2 separate regions of the Homo sapiens genome follow, and region 1 is linked to region 2. A link means that fine-mapping ties the variant in region 2 to the expression of a gene that starts in the linked region. Tissue or cell type: whole blood. Region 2 holds a variant in brackets; the other region holds the start of a gene. All regions are shown on one strand. Distances are from middle to middle.

Region 1 (8,162 bases), 49 kb after region 2:
ACATGTCATTCAAGGAGTAGAAGTTTCTAGAATAAGGCAAAAGTTACAGGGCAGCAGTTATGACCTTTAATAGAACTTTGTTACACTGAAAGATACAGCCTGCCATACTTGCAGGGAAAATGTCTTTCAAGAAGGGTAACACCCAATTTCTTCCATACATTTAAAAATAGCCTAATCTTAAACTTATCAAATCATTTTAGGGATGAGAAAACAGGGTCACACAAGTTAGGTGACATCATTTATGGCAAAGCAAGAATCGGCATGTTTATTTTCTAACCCCCAAGCTGAAATATTTTCCACTGTACCACTCTACCCTATACTCCAGGACTTCATCTTTCTTACTGAAAAACCCAAACCATCAAATGTCCCCTTGTTCTACCCAAGAATTGTTCTGCAACATACGCCACCTGCTTTCTTGCTTTCTATGAGGCTGAAGACTAGACAGGCAGGAGTTTATTATACAGACCTGCCATATACTTGAAGTAGTGTGTTAAGTCAACCAGAGGCCAAGTTCTTGAATGCTTTCTCTGTTTGGATTATTTCCACGCTGTCTGGCTGCTCTGCCCTGGACAGGTCCCTGCTCTGCACATCTCTCAAGGCTGAGAAGCCCCAACTAGGGTAACTGTCCCATCAGAAGGTGAGTTCACTGGGTAATGGGAGCAACTGCTCATTGTGAAGGTGACATGATGTTAAAAGGCTTGAAAGGGGCTGCATGGTGGCTAACGCCTGTAATCCCAGCACTTTGGGATGCTGAGGCAGACGGATCACCTGAGGTCACGAGTTCGAGACTAGCCTGGCCAACAAGGTAAAACTCCGTCTCTACTAAAAATACAAAAAAAAAAAAAAAAAAAAAAAATTAGCTGGGCATGGTGGCAGGAGCCTGTAATCCCAGCTACTTGGGAGGCTGAGGCAAGAGGATCACTTGAACCCGGGAGGTGGAGGTTGCAGTGAGCCGAGACTGTGCCATTGCACTCCAGCCAGGGAACAAGAGTGAAACTCTGTCTCAAAAAAAAAAAAAAAAAGGCTTGAAAGCAGCATGGGAATGTCAAGCCTATTTAAATTGTTCAGGTTAAAATATTCAAGTTAAGAGTAATACTGAGAGAGAGGAGAGGGAAAAAGTGTGCAATAATGGTTTAATTCACCTGCATGAGTCAATCATATTTGGTAAGTGGGTGGAACTAGAAGTGAAGCAGTGAGCTGAAGACTGAGGGGAAAAAAAACAATAATAAAATTTAAGGGTCAACTCAAAGGTCAAATGAACAGAAGTGTCCCAACTTGTATTCCTGAAAAACAATTTACACAGTGATCTGCCAAGTGTCAAGCTTAATATGCCAGGTTGCCTCTGGTATCCTTATGAGGAAGCAGTGAAGGGCCCAACATTTCAGTGTTTTCAGTGGTAATTTCAAGCTCTGTAGCTCCAGCTCTTAGACAGTAGCACTAGAAAAAATACAAAAAGACAAGTGGGGCATCATACTCAGGCACTGCAGGCCACACCGCAGGTCTCACACGGCTGGCAAACTGCTTTCAAAACACACATTTCACATAGTAGTGATTTTGGTATCTTTGAACTACTGAGATTTTTCAGGTTTAAACTTAACATTATTCATCCTTACAGCCAGGATCTTCCCACTAAAAATAGAAATAAATGATATATACACACTGATGCTCCTTTGTATAAGGAATATAGCTAAAGTAAGAGGATATAGGCACATTAGCAAGAAAGCTCTGGGGAGAAGAAATCTTAGCAGTTTTAATGAAAGATCAAAAGACCAAAAAAAAAAAAAAAAAAGGCATATAGCATATACCTTCATAAAGCACCTACATTTCATCTTCATCGAAATGAATTTAGTCAAAAGGGTGACAGGGAAGAAAGAAACAAGTCAAATCCCAGCATGGCACAGTAAACCTCAGTTGTCTGCTATAAAGACAGGGAGGGACAGACTGGCACAAATGATCCTAACTATTGACATTTAAGGAATCTTTTGGATTTCTGCTTTTTGCTTTGGGGAGGGCAACAGATTTGCTGGAATAAACCACCTGCTGAAGAGGAGGGAGGTTCAGAATACACCAAATGATAGAAAAGAGAGAATGCAGGGCTAAAAAAAAGTCCACTGCAGATCATCGCCAGTTAACTGTGTTTCCCAGACAGAACTGAACTCATTCTAATTTGGCTTACAGGAAGAAGTCTGACACTGGCAAATAAACGTCATTTGTGATAAGACTGGGGCTTCAATGATCCAGTTCTGGATAACTGACACTCTATTAACCCAATTATGTGCTACCCATGGATTCAAAAGGACCTACTGGCTCTGCCTGGGTCCACGCAGCTCCTGGACCCTTGGCCCTAGGTGCTCTAGTTCAACAATTAGTCACAAGGAAGAAAAGGCAAAGGAAAGTGGTGACTCTGCAAATCCTCTGAAGGCACTTCACGGTGTGAAGGAACAGCATCAACCTTGGTCAAGTAGATGCAATGCTCACTTGGCATTCCAGCTGTTCCTCAATGAGGCCAAAGCCAAGAAGCAAAGAAATTTACAAGTGGCCGACGCGCAAGTGCGCGCGCCCACACACACACACACACACACACACAATGTGAACAATAATAAAATACCAAAACTAGGTAAATTTTTTCAAATACCAACATTATTGGAGAAAGAGGCCAAGGGACCGTCAACAGAAATAGGGAGCTAGCCCAGGACGTCAGTAGCAGAGGTGGTTTGAAGGAAAACAAGGTGATGGAAGAAAAAGAACTAACCACTGAGTTGCCTGGCAGCTTGCAATGGAAGTGGCGGTGGGGAGATGACCCTAAAGCTAAAAGCAACATAGCAACACCATAGACTGCATAAGACCAATCTATACAGGAGGGTTGCTGGGTTTGAGGTGTGGGAAATGAACTTAAAAATACCAGATCCAGGATGGGCACGGTGGCTCAGGCCTGTAATCCCAGCACCTTAGGAGGCCAAGGTGGGCGGGTCACGAGGACAGGAGTTCAAGACCGGCCTGACCAACCTGGTGAAACCCCGTCTCTAATAAAAATACAAAAATTAGCCGGGCGTGGTAGCGGGTGCCTGTAATCCCAGCTACTCAGGAGGCTGAGGCAGGAGAATTGCTTGAACTCGGGAGGCAGAGGTTGCAGTGAGCCAAGATCGCGCCACTGCACTCCAGCCTGGGTGACAGAGTGAGACTCTATTAAAAAAAAAAAAAAATTTGTTGGGTGTGGTGGCATGTTCCTGTGGTCCCAGCTACTTGGGAGGCTGAGGTAAGAGGATCACTTGAGCCTGGGCGGCAAGGGGTAGCAGTGAGCAGAGATTGCGCCACTGCACTCCAGCCTGCGTGACAAAGTGAGACCCCGTCTCAAAAAAATAAAAAACAAAAAAAACCCCAAAAGACCCACAAACAAACCCCATAGGCAAGCACAATTTTCATAAAATCATTAATAGTTTTCCAAAGCAAAACAGTAAATACCTAAACAACTAAAATTGAGGGTTATAAAAGACACCACAAAAAAAAAACCTCACATAGGGAAACATTTTAGAAGATTCTAGGCTTTATCACTCTCGGTTTTTCTACCTGAAGTTAAAAGCTGTGTATAAAATACAAAGTCAATATTTGATGACAGTTACCTCTGATTCTACTGTGTCTTGTCCTTCTTTTGAACTTTTTCCACTCTTCCCTGCTTTTGGTGATTCCTGGTAAACATCAAGCAAAGTCAATTAGTCTTCTCACTTTTTAGACAGGTAAACATCAGATAAGCCAAATGCAGTTTTAAAAGTGATTTATACAACTACAGCTTCTGATATTTTTAATTCATACCATTAGGAAATTCTATATCATACCGTTTAGGATTCCAACAGTGCAATGCCCCCCAACCCCCATTCAGATTCTTTTCGTTTTATCTGCATTTGAGGTTGAAAACTTCAAGCAGAAAACAGATAAATCCAATTTTATACAGTGCTTCTGGCATTTTGAGATCCACATCACATCCCTTTCTACCCTCCCACCCTAAACCCTATGAGTGAGGATTTCTGGGGTGATAATGAAACGCTACAGAGCTCCACCTGAAGCAGAAACATACCCGCCCCCCCGAATGCAAACGCAGCACCCTTGCTCGCAGCCCTCACCGCCGCCGCCACCCAGGATAATAATAGTGTTCGAGAGCCCCAGAGCGTCCCTCCGGGGCGGCAGAGAATTCCTTACCAGCTCTCAGCGGGGTCCCTTCTCGCTCCCTTTCCCCCGTACAGGGGTCCCTCCCCAGGCGTCTACAGCCCCCATCCCTGAAGCTCCTTTCCGGGAGCCTGCGAGGCTGCGAACCCCCTCGGCGGCCGCACCTGCCCGCCCAAGCCCACGGCGCGCTGTCGGAAACGGGCGCCCCTCCGACCCCCTCCCCGGGCCGCGCCCTCCCTCCACGCCCAGCCCCGGCCCATCACGAAGGTCCCAGCGGCCCGGGCCTGCGCCCCGCGGCTCCGGCGCGATCCCCGGGCTCCCCGCCCCCACCGGGCATGAGGCCGAGAGAAGCCCGGGGATGCCTGGCTCGGCCGCCCTCGGGGACGCGAAGCCCGCGGCGTCAGGCGGGGAACTGAGCCGGGGCCCGGGCGCAGGACCCCGGTGCCGTCGCGCCCTCCCCCGGCAGTCCCTCCCTGCTCCCTCCGTCCCGCGGCCGGGCCCGGACTCACTTTCTCCTTCTTGTTTTTATTCGGCATGGCTGGAGCGGGCCGCCGCCGCCGCCGCCGCCCCTGCCGCCGCCTGCCCCCGCAGCAGCAGCGCCCCCGCCCCGGCCGTCGCGCCCCCGCGGCCGCCGCCGCCGCCGCCGCCCGGGGACTGAGTCTTTCGCTTGCTCTCGCTTCCCCTTTTCCAGACTCCCAGAGGCTGCGGCAGCCACGGCGGCGGCGGCGGCGGCGGCGGCGGCAGCGGCGGCGTCTCTCCGCCCCTCCCCCGGCCGGCCCGCCCCGCCCCTCTCCTCCCACCCCCCGGCCGGCCGCCCCGCCCCGCCCGCCGCTCGCCCCACCCCCGCGCCCGGCCCCGCCCCGCTGCACTCAACAGCGCCCTGCCATTGGTCGACGCGCCCCCACGTACCCTAACGCTCCCCGCTCCCCCCACCCTCTCCGCGCGACCCGTTCACGCCCCCGCCCTCCGTCCCGAGTCGCTGCGAGCCGGCCTCAGGCAGGCCGCGGCCTCCTGGCGCGGGGCTGACCGCTGAGCAGAGCTGAGCCGACTCAGGGGAGGGAGCATGTGGCTGCGACTGCGGTGACAGGGCCGTGGCCCGCTGTGGAGGCGCAAGACAGAGCGTGAGACGTAGGAAATGCACATTTGAAATGTATGGCAACAACTTCTGCAGCCGGCGAAACGCGAACCGTGGCCTCTTGGCCTTGCCCCCTCACCGCCGCGGCTCTCGTTGCAGTCAAGAGTGCCTGGCACGCTTTGCACTGAGGCGCACGGGGAGGCCCGGGAACCGAGCGAGCGGCAGTTTCGCGGGACACCGCTGGGCCCCGCCTCCCCTCCCTTCCCTCCCCTCCCCTTCCCTCCTCTCCCTCCACTCCCCTCCCCTCCGTCCCCTCCCCTCGACCACCCCGTCCCCTGCCCTCCCCTTCTCTCGACCAGCCCGTCCCCTGCCCTCCCCTCCCCTCCCCTCGACCAGCCCGTCCCCTCCCCTCCTCTTCCCTCGGCCAGCCCCTCCCCTCGGCCAGCCCTTCCCCTCGACCAACCCCTCTCCTCGACCGGCCCCTCCCCTCGACCGGCCCCTCCCCTTGGCCGGGCCCTCCCCTTGACCGGCCCCTCCCCTCGACCGGCCCCTCCCCTCGGCCGGCCCCTTCCCTCGGCCAGCCCCTCCCCTCGACCAGCCCCTCCCCTCGACCAGCCCCTCCCCTCACCAGCTCAGCTTTCCGCAGCTCCTCCCGCGAGGTCCCGCCCATCCGACAGCCCGCCCCTCCCTGGTTGGTCCCGCCCTCCGCAGTTTCTCCCGCAAGGTCCCGCCTACCCGACAGTCCCGTCCTTTCCTGGTTGGTCCCGCCCTCCGCAGCTTTTGCCGCGAGGTCCCACCCACCCGACAGCCCCGCCCCTCTCCAGTCGGCCCCGCCCTCCGCAGCTCCTTCCGCGAGGTCACGCCCACATGCGCAGCCCCTCTCCTCCGGCGTCGGCCCCGCCCACCGAGGCGAGGCCTCAAAGACTTGGTGGCCGCTGCGCCAATAGGATTTTATTTTTATTCTTTAATTTGGCTTGATCATAAATGGTGAGGAAACCTCTGCATGACTGGGAGTCACCTGATTTCTCTCAGCTTGTTAATAGCTGTGAGGAGAGGGTGTCCAAGGGAAAAACGTTAACTTTTCAATACAATACTTCCGCGGTCCACCTCGTGCCCAAAACTATTGAAGACGCTAAGGACAGGCGTCCCAGATTGCAGAAATGCATTAGGTAGTAAGACTCTAGGAGCGTACGGATTTCACGTGCGAGAGGCATTGGTGCTTCACCTGTGATGATGAAGGAGCTGCATCTTAACTGGCAGCTTAAAAATCATCGCGTTCTCTTAGCCCCCGGAGTTTTGTTCTTGGAAGTTTCCAGGCAAAGCATTTTCCATTATTCTCAGCAGTTCTGCAATGAGAAAGCTGAAAGACGGGGTAAGAAAAAAAAGATCTAAAGGGAGGAATGTTGTGGGAGGTCCAGAAAGTAAGTTCTGTCTGCGGGTATCTGAATGTCTGCCGGCTCTTAGACGAATATCTGTAGGTAAGCAGGACAGTCTCAACTATTTGTGCGGAATAAGTGGCTTTTTTATTAATAATTTAAGTGGGTTAATGGTGTCTCCAAAACAATTTTGAGGATAGAGCGATGCCCCTAGTTAACTTAATAACATTTTAAAAATAAAATATGTGCTGTCAATTTAATAAGTCCAGGATATATCCATATCAAAAAGGAGTAGCTCTGAAACTATTGGTTTATGGCCATGAACTCTTAGGGAGGCTTAGAGGCATCTCTGAGACAATCCTTTGCCACCCAAATCCTTGTATCATATCTCCTGATCCGGTGTTGCATACAATTCATTCATTCGACCCACATTTGTTGGATAACTACTATGTGCAAAGCATGATGCCAGAAATTTCATGGTGAACAAGGCACTACCCTTGTCCTCAAGCAGTTCACATGCTTGCATGGAAATAGAAAAAACCAGCAATCAGAAGGACATGACATGTGACAAGTCTACAGGACTGGGGTGAGGGGGGTCAGGCTTGGAAGCATGACAGAGCACTGCACAGGACGTTTTGTTATGGCCGGAGATGAGACTGAAGGAACAGCGACGCTGAATTAAGACTGGTAGACCTTGCCAAGATATTGTACTTCTTTTTGAATGCATTTCAGGGTCACTGACAGATACTGAAGTGGGGAGTGATGTACTCACATTTGCATTTTAGAAGACATCGGTGGCAGGAGTGTGGAGGAGGTGAGGGTGGAAGTAAAAGCAGGAGGCAGAAAGAGCAATCAGCATCCAGCTATGGTTCAGGTGCGTGCCAGGGAGGCATCTCCACAGCAACGGGGGGAAGGATCGCCGACGCGACAGAGAGCCAGAATCGAGGATAAAAAGCGAATGCTCATGCTTGTAGTTTGGGCAACACAGTGAATGATGAGGAAGGGATGCAAGTGGAGGGCAGGTTTGCAAGGGAACAAGATTCCAGTTTGGGACACGTTGCTGTGTCCGCAAAATGTAGGTAGAGGTGTCCAAGATGGCAACTGGAAATATAGCATAGAGGACTAGTTGCATGTCAGGTTAGAGGTTTCTCAGGTCAGTTTAGAGTTTTAGGGAAAGCATAGGGACAGGGTACAAGCAAAGCTGCCTGATTAACATCCAGTGACCTTGAAACCATAGCAACCAGAGAAATCTGACTCAACACCATTACCTGTACAACTGCATGTGTACGTCACTGGCCATTGGACTGGCTTCATTTGCCCACATTAGGGAGGACCATCTTTAAGGACAGTTAGTTACCGACTACCCGTAGAACACACTGGGTTTCATGCAGTGTCTTAGGTGCTGTGGTATTTACAGGAACGCTAAAGATAGATATAGCTCCTGCTCCCAAAAGAAGGGATTCAGGACAAGCTATTGAGATAGGATATAAAGCCATTATGTGGGTGTGTGTGTGTGTGTGTGGCTGAGGGTTACCTCTTCCAGGATGGCC
Region 2 (8,233 bases):
ATGTTTTTCATTGAAATACGTTAACTACAGCGTATAGAGGATTGAAAGAAAAATAAAGTACAGCTTCTCATGAGCTTCTCATTCCACTGATGAGGTATTTAGCTAAGAAATACATCAGATAGGCCGGGTGTGGTGGCTCATGCCTACAATCCCAGTACTTTGGGAGGCCAAGGCGGGCGGATCACTTGAGGTCAGGAGTTCGAGAGCAGCCTGGCCATCACGGTGAAACCCTGTCTATACTAAAAATACAAAAAATAGCCGGGCGTGGTGGCATGCACCTGTAATCCCAGCTACTCGGGAGGCTGACGCAGGAGAATCGCTTGAACCTGGGAGGCAGAGGTTGCAGTGAGCCGAGATCACGCCACTGCACCCCAGCCTGGGTGACAAAGCGAGACTCCAACTCAAAAAAGAAATATAGTAGATAGCTATTTCCTGAGTGATCACTCAGAGATAACTTTTAATTTTTAATCCACTGACACTAACTGATGCCTCTACTCTAGGAATAATGCTCAGTGTCACCAGAGAACAAGTTCAACAGGACTGTCCTCGGGATACTCCTGATTTTGTGGAGGAGGTAAGTCAACAGTTACTAGCTGGCAGATTTGGTAAGTGAACTGGGACAGCAGGTAAGATTATCAACTTTCTCCCTGCACACCAAGAACATACGCATGTAAACCTTTAACAAACTCCTATTCAACCCTGAAATGAGTTTTGAACTCCAGACACTCAAATCCATTACCACTGTACAGAAAACAGTAAAAATCAAAAAGTACCTATGAGGTGGGAGCTTTCACCAGCATCTCTCAACACTCTGATGTCTGCAGAGCAAAGAACATGAGCTTTGCTATCAGACTGACTGAGGCTCAAATCTTGTTTCACTACATTCTCTGTGGCCCTGGGCAAGAGGCTCCCTTTTTTCTCCCGGGGGGACAAAAAAGGCAGGGGCGGTAGTGAGTGGGGGAGGGTTATAATGCCTCACAGTGTTGGGCAGATTCAGAGAGAGAACAGAGGTACAGGGTTTCAGCTGTGACCTAGCACACTGAAGGCACTCAACGTATGCTGCTTCTCCTCTGGGACAGCCACCAGCAGCAGCTTCGGGACCTCGTACTTGGTGCTGCCAACAGCCCTGGACTGGACCCTCTAGGCTGGGTGACCTTGGGGAGGAGAAATACTAGGATTGTCCTGCTCACCTGCCAGGCAGGAGTGCTGTGAGGAAGAAGTACATGAGTGTTCACAACAGCTTGTCACAATTGGCAAAGTGCTGTAGGATCCAAAAAGAACCACCTCGCAATTTTATTTGACATATGGAACCAAAAGTTAGGATGTATCCCAAACCACTTTGTCTTTGTGTTTCTGTCTATTCTTTTCCTGGGTTTAAAAACACACACCCTATTCTTGACTAATAACCTTACCTCTATTTTTCTTTCATTCCTCTACACAACATACTTTAATGAGAAAATTTTAGAAGATAGCTTTTGCTGCAAGGCAAAACCTCCTGAGCAGACATTAGACCCAAGCTGGATGGTAAGCTTTTGTTTTTGCCTCTGAGATTGAGAGCGTATGGATGAGGGAGGTGGATGAGAGTGTGTTTATGAGCATAAATGTGTGTGTGTTTAAGGAACAAAAAGGTGTACAGACTTTACACAAACATACCCACCCCTGTTTCCTCAGAGAGTTATCTGTTACTTTGGTTACCTTCCACACCACCAGGAATACGAAAGAAACAACTTCACACCTAGGATACAGGATTGGATACAGGATAGGATATGGGTAAGGTTAAGGCTGTAGTTCTATAAAGTCACTTTGCAGAGAGCTGCAGTTACATAGTAAAGAGATGTTTGTGAAGTAAAAATCTTGAGCTGAGGCACTGTTCAGAGGATCACTGGTTTAATTATTTGAAGAACTGTTTAGTCATCATTCAAACATTTTTCCTTCCTAATTTTAGGGAATAAAGATAACAGGGGGCACCCATTCTCACTAGTACTTACTGACTTCACACCATGCAGGTGTGTTACTAATTTAGCAACCCATGTGCATTATGTATAGCTATTGTTATTATTAATATAGGTTAAGTCACCAGATTTAGCGCAGCAGGAAATGAAAGCCATGGGTTTGAGTTCTGTGCTTGCTTCTTGCATGTTTTTTAATGAGTTTTTATTGGAAAGGTGAAGACCTTCAACAAATTGGTGACTCAGGAAGTACTTGTGAGAAAATAAACTTTTCCATTAGACTTCCACTTCCCAAGAAAAAATGGGTTTACATCAAAAGAATGGTTTGTTCTCCAACATCCCACCAGGCTGGAGCTACTCCTGAGTCTTTCAAGGACAGACTCATCCACTGGATAAGTTTGCTAATGACTAGAACAAGATGAGAGCAGTTAATAACATTCTTGAAGCCCAGAATAAGGGCCAGCTGGAAAAGGCTCAAACTGTGTGCTTCCTCTCTGGCCATTACCATCTTTCCGGCTTGGCTGTCACTGCCTTAAACCTGGCTCCTGAAGTGAGCATGCGCTGCAGGGTGGGAAGTGGGCCCACCCACCACGCCTCACAGCATCACGGCTGGCCCAGCTTCCCAGCACAGGGAGGAGGCACTAGACTGAAGGCCTGCAGGAAACATGCTTTCCTATCCTTAACAGGCAATTCCGAAAGTCAAAGAACAGTCTAGAACAGAGTTGGTGAACTATGGTCCATGGGCCAAATCCAGCCTGTCACCTGTTTGTCAATAAAGCTTTATTGGACCACAGTTATGCCTATTCATTTACTGTCTATGGCTGCTTTCACCCACAAAGCCAAAGCTACTTACAATCTGGTCCTTTTCCAAAAAAGTCGAACAATTCCAGTCTACGACTGTGCTGTCCAATATCCTAGCCACAAGACAGGTGTGTCCACTTAAATTTACAATAACTACAGTTAAAAATTCACTTTCTCAGCTGTATATGTTAAGTGCTCAGCAGTCGCAGGTGACCAGGGGCTGCTGCAGAGGACAGCACAGAACATTTCCACCACAGCAGACAGTTCTCCTGGACACAGCTGAGAGTGAGGATTTATGTCACCAAGCTACATTCACAGCCATCAAGTTCCAGGTGACTCTCCTTCTACAGACAGAAGGGCTTACACTAACTCTCAAAAATATGTCCCTTTCACACTCAAACTTATTAGGATGTGCAAATTCACCATTTTAATCGCAAAGTCCAGACTACTTGGTAGACAATAATGGTCAAAGCGATCGTGACAACAAATCAGGTGATCATTTTCCTTACTTACTTACTTGGTCCCCACCCTGATGGATGGTAAACTGGGAAAGCTGGGCCATAGCCCCTGCTCATATCCACATTAGAACCCTGCCTGGCATGTGGTATGGATCAATAAATATTTGTAAAATGATTAATAAATGAGCCCAAGGTACAAAACTGTTATACAAAAAGAGGCTACCGAGCCAAATAAATGGTAAGGCATTGGGGAAAATACCACTACTGTAATCCTGTAGCAAAATGTTCTTCAAGCAGCCAACATTCCTATTTTAAAATGATTTTTTTAAAAAGATCCAAAACAAAACAACACAACAGTCTGGGTTTGGATTCTGGCTCCACCACTTCCAGGCTGTGTGACCTTGGGTAAGTTATTTCTCCTTCAGTGGGAAAGACCCCTCCTTCCTAAATAAACGGGAAGGACAGCGCATGCCCACCCCATCCGAGTGAGCAGGGTAGCCCAGGGTGCAGCCCTCCTTGGTTCCTTCTGCTCCTGACACCAGCCCCTGCTCTCCCGGGCACCCTGCCGGTGTGTTCTTGCTTTAGCCCTCTCGTGGCAGAGCTCCTATGCTGGGTCTCTCCATTCGCTCCTTTGGGACAGGGGCTGCAACTTAATCACTGTAATGACGCTCAGCACTTGGCACACCGGAGCTGCTCAATGGATGTTAAGCTAAGACTCTAAGGCCCAATAAATAAATCAAATTTTGCTAAATCTCACATTAACATGCTCGCTCCAGAAAAGTCTTTATGAGTAAATCAAGCGTTCTTCAAATTTTGAAGTTAGAAATTACCCCCACTGTTTGAGTCAGAAGTTAGTCTTAGGTCTCCAAAGTTATCCCTTCTTAAAAACTCAAGTCTCTTTCAGGCTAATACACTTCACTGCTTTTTCCCTCCACAATTATACAGCAAGCAACCAACCACCCAACCAACAGCAACAAATACAAACTGGCCATAATAAGGTCTTGGAATTTTAAAAAAAAAATCAATGTGGTTCAAGACACAACGTGAAATGATTCTATTTCAGAATAAGTTCATAATTCAAAAACTGAGTAGTATATTAGGCATCTAATAAAAACCAGAAAACACAAACCAAAAAGATTTATGTTATTTATAAGTGGATACCTTAAAAGTATAAAAATTTACATTTTATATGCAGTTAATTTATCTTACTGCTAACTAGTTCGTTTTTAAGAACTAACTTGGCCAGGTACAGTGGCTCTTACCTGTAATCTTAGCACTTTGGGAGGCGGAGGTGGGAGGATCGCTTGAGCCCAGGAGTTCAAGACCAACCAGGGCAACATGGCAAAACCCCATCTCTACAAAAAATATTAAAAAATTAGCTGGGCATGGTGGTGCGTGCCTGAAGTCTCAGCTACTCAAGAAACTGAGGTGGGAGAATCACCTGAGCTCGGGAGGTGGAGGCTGCAGTGAGCTGTGATCATACCACTGTACTCCAGCCTGGGTGACAAGAGTGAGACCCTGTCTCCCAAAAAACAAACAAAAGCTATCTAACTTAAATCCAAACAATTACATTTTGTTCTTGCCCATTTGGTTCTTGCAGCTAAAATACCTGAATGTTACCTGTAGGCAACCTTTGCTTTTTACTGGGTGCACTACAAAAACAATAAATTCACAGCCTGTCCTACAATTTGGTCATTGAATGCTGATTTCCACCTTCATGAAAGATAGTTTGGAGAGAAAAGCACCACCCATT[T/G]TATTCCAGTAGATTGAGTCTGCATGTGCCTGGGTACACCCTAGGATCTGAAAAGTCTGGCCTGGCGTTTTAGTCATAGAGATTATTAGTCACCTAGAAATCTTGCTCCCACCCTTCCTTAAAAGAGATTCTGAGAAACAGTTTTGTTGGGGCACAGCTCTGATACTATAAATTCTAAAGTGATCTGATGAAGCTTAAAATCATTTTTCTATTTCACCCAATTATGACCAAAAAAAAATTCATATATCTTAAAATACCAAGAATAAGTAGGCTACTACCCTGATGCCTGTAGTTCAATATAACCGCTATTAATTACTAGAGTAGTTGTGCTTTTAGGCTAAGTTTTGAAACCAAAATATGCATAAAAAGAAGCAAACTAATTATTAAAACAGTGATCTCTATATACCTTGAAAACTTGTTGCCATTTAAAATTTTAAAAGCCAACTGGCAACACAGAGCCTATTTAAATGCAAAATATTTCCTAATATTCCACGAAAACGCTAACATTTCAAAAATGATGACCCACGATAGATTTCAATATTTCAAAGTGGAGCATATTTCTCTCTCAGGCTCCACGGCAAGAATGAAAACAATCCTTTTAAAGGAAGTTCTTTTCCAATCAATTGTGCATATTTTCTGACTGCAATTCATCTTTAATTCTGAGATGTGTCCTCGACAAAACCTTTGCAGCATTAAGCCACACATATGTAACAGAAACTCTGCGTACGAACAACTTGGCCAGGCGCGACAGGCCCGCCTCTCCTTCCTACCCCCACCCAATACCTTCCCTGGGCAGTGACTTCACATCCTTTGACATCAGCACAGCTTTGAAAGGGGGATGGGAGAGCGAGCAGAAAGCAGAAAAACCAGCTTTGAACTATGCATGCAAGGCCTCTTTCAAGCCTCAAATTCTGTAAGTAGTTCGTAAAATGCCAAACTGCAGTGACACACCCAACCTCCTCTGGTTAAGTCTGCAGCGAAATGGGGTGAATTCTGCTAGAAAGGACTTCCTGCTTTTCTTATCTGAAGCACAATAGCCATTTATTAACTACCCACGGAAGGTTCCGATTCAGTGAAACACACAATAACTTACCTCGAATATGGAGAAGGACCACGGGCTGGAAAGGCCCATTGGAGTTGGCCGCATCCACCACCATCCTGCTGCCCGCTTTATTACATGTCAACATCTAGACTTCAGCGGGAAAGGCAATGGGCTCCTTAAGGCAAGAAACCAGCCTCCATTTTAGTTTAAAAAAAAAAAGACAAACTGAAGCTCTCTGCAGCTGGAGGGAACTGGCTGGTTCGTGATGTCAGCAGGCATGAAGCTCGCTGATTGGCCGGAAGCTGCAACTTAAAATGACACTAAAAAAACTGCAAACGGAAAGAGCGTTCTGTTTGGCTGTCAGTGTGCCTTAAAAGCTGGGATATTTTCCGGCTTTTTGCAGCCTTCGTTTCTCAGTAACTTTTAGGCAAAGATCCCATCTCTTAGGGGGAATACTGGAGGCCACAACCTTGGCCAGACTGTAAACAAATGATTTCGAGGGAGCCACCAAAAAAAAAAAAAAAAAAAAAAAAAAGTGTGTGTATATGTCTGTGTGAACTTTAGCATTTCCCAGTGAGGGATCCCAAATTCATTTTATACCCACCTGTGCAACTTCGACTTGCTAGTTCTAATTAATATCTGCATCTTAGGTAGGATTCTGGCAACCCAGTGTTTTTTTTTTGTTTTTTTTTTTTAACAAATGGTTAAGCAAATATTACACAATTCTAATCCATTAGTTTGGACTCTTATTCAACTTCCCTTACCAATAGGATGAGTTATTAACTTATGATCCCAAACACTTTTTTTCTTGAGATCTATTTTTTCCCTGAAAAAATTAAGCTTAAAAACTTACGTAGAAAATGAAAGCCGCTTTATAAATTCGATAGCTAGAAAGTGACACAAATTGAAATATTTATATCACCTGGCCGTGGGAGTAAGAAAGCAAAAAAATGAAATGGAGCATGTTTATTTTTGTATTGCAAATATGCTGACATATTAAATACCTTTTAAGTTTTAGATATTTTGTTTAAATTTAAAATTAAAGATATTTTCACTTATTTTTATGGGGCTATTAAAAGCTGCTATTCAGATCTAAATTTTCTATCTTCAAATACAGTTAATGTAAAAAGCTATTCCAAGGAGAAAAACATTATTTCTGAATTGGATGGAGTATTGCAGGATCCCATGAGGGGGTGCGGTGAGATGATTCCCTACAAAAATGAGTGTTATTAGTAGTTCCAAATGAAAACGAACTATAAGAAAAGCCTCTTCGGCAGGTGGAACTGAAAAAAATTCCTCCTTTCTTCACACCAACAAGGAAGTTTGTCCAAACCATGGCTCCTCATTTTTAATAGTTTCTCACACAATTCCCCTGCTCTCTTCCCCCCACTTGTGAAGGATACAAAAGCCCTTTAGTTCCTAAACATAATTCACAGTAGAGTAAGAAACACCTGAAATACAGCTAGGGCTCGCAGTTCCAGCTGAGGGTTTAGCGCCAGATACATTCAATGAGTAAGGGAACTGCTACCGCCCTTCAGGGCTGCTAATCAAGTCCTCCCTCACAAGAATGTAGCTTTTATTGTGTGTATCAATAGCAACTAAAATAAATAGATAAAAGCAAACCAAATCCCACCCTTCCCCCTCTTTCCCCAGAGCTGACAGACAGTGCTGGATTCCATGGCCGGCCAGGAGATGATGTGATTTCTAACACAAGTGGGCAGTGGGCACGCACCACCTGAGCAGGCTGCCGGCCTCACACCTGCTCTGACTTTGCTGCTATCTGAACAGCAGAATTAATTTTTTTTTTAAAGAGCACGTGCTTTCAGTTGGGTAAGAGGAATTTAGATCTTAGCTGCCCTCCTGCCTCTAAGCCTTCACTGCTGACCTGTGGGTTGTCTGTCTGGAGGGGATGGCCACCGATCACCAACGACCACTAGGAAGCAGTGTTGATGACTCTCACTGCCCCACACCCCAGCCTCCTCCTCCTCCTCCTCCTCTGAGTGATGCCAGATGAACTCAGACACAATTAGGAACGAGGCGTTCAGGGGCTCAGGAAGGAGCCCAGGAGCAGATGCTTATTGAAGATCTGGGCTTTAAGGAGACAGAGACCTGCCCTCCAATGATTTAATATTTCATACGAGATAAGATGAAAAAATGTGCCTATCCTACAACTGTGCTGATGAGTGGGAATACAGAAATAAGGGGGAAAGGCTCCTAAGAGCTTTATATA

What was found. PIP is the estimated chance that this variant, and not a neighbour inherited with it, causes the effect.
Region 1: PPP2R5C starts here. The variant in region 2 is fine-mapped to the expression of PPP2R5C in whole blood (INTERVAL, PIP 0.96).

The regions. Positions count from the first base shown.
Region 1 is chr14:101,758,429-101,766,590 of GRCh38, reverse strand. PPP2R5C (protein phosphatase 2 regulatory subunit B'gamma) reads right to left here and starts at 4,882. Exons shown (of 16, transcript NM_001352913.2): 1 at 4,671-4,882; 2 at 3,621-3,686. The coding sequence starts at 4,697. It overlaps LOC107984658 (a long non-coding RNA gene), which reads right to left and starts at 2,512. Exons shown (of 2, transcript XR_001750901.1): 1 at 2,305-2,512; 2 at 1-1,437. RefSeq lists silencers at 4,247-4,316, 4,367-4,586, 4,727-4,966, 4,977-5,136, 5,597-5,646 and 2 more.
Region 2 is chr14:101,807,858-101,816,090 of GRCh38, reverse strand. All of the region lies in intron 3 of PPP2R5C (protein phosphatase 2 regulatory subunit B'gamma), which reads right to left. LOC124903388 (a long non-coding RNA gene) reads left to right here and starts at 5,101. Exons shown (of 2, transcript XR_007064349.1): 1 at 5,101-5,874. RefSeq lists enhancers at 5,802-5,881, 5,473-6,055, 7,805-8,099. The variant T/G (reference allele first, on the strand shown) is at 4,962.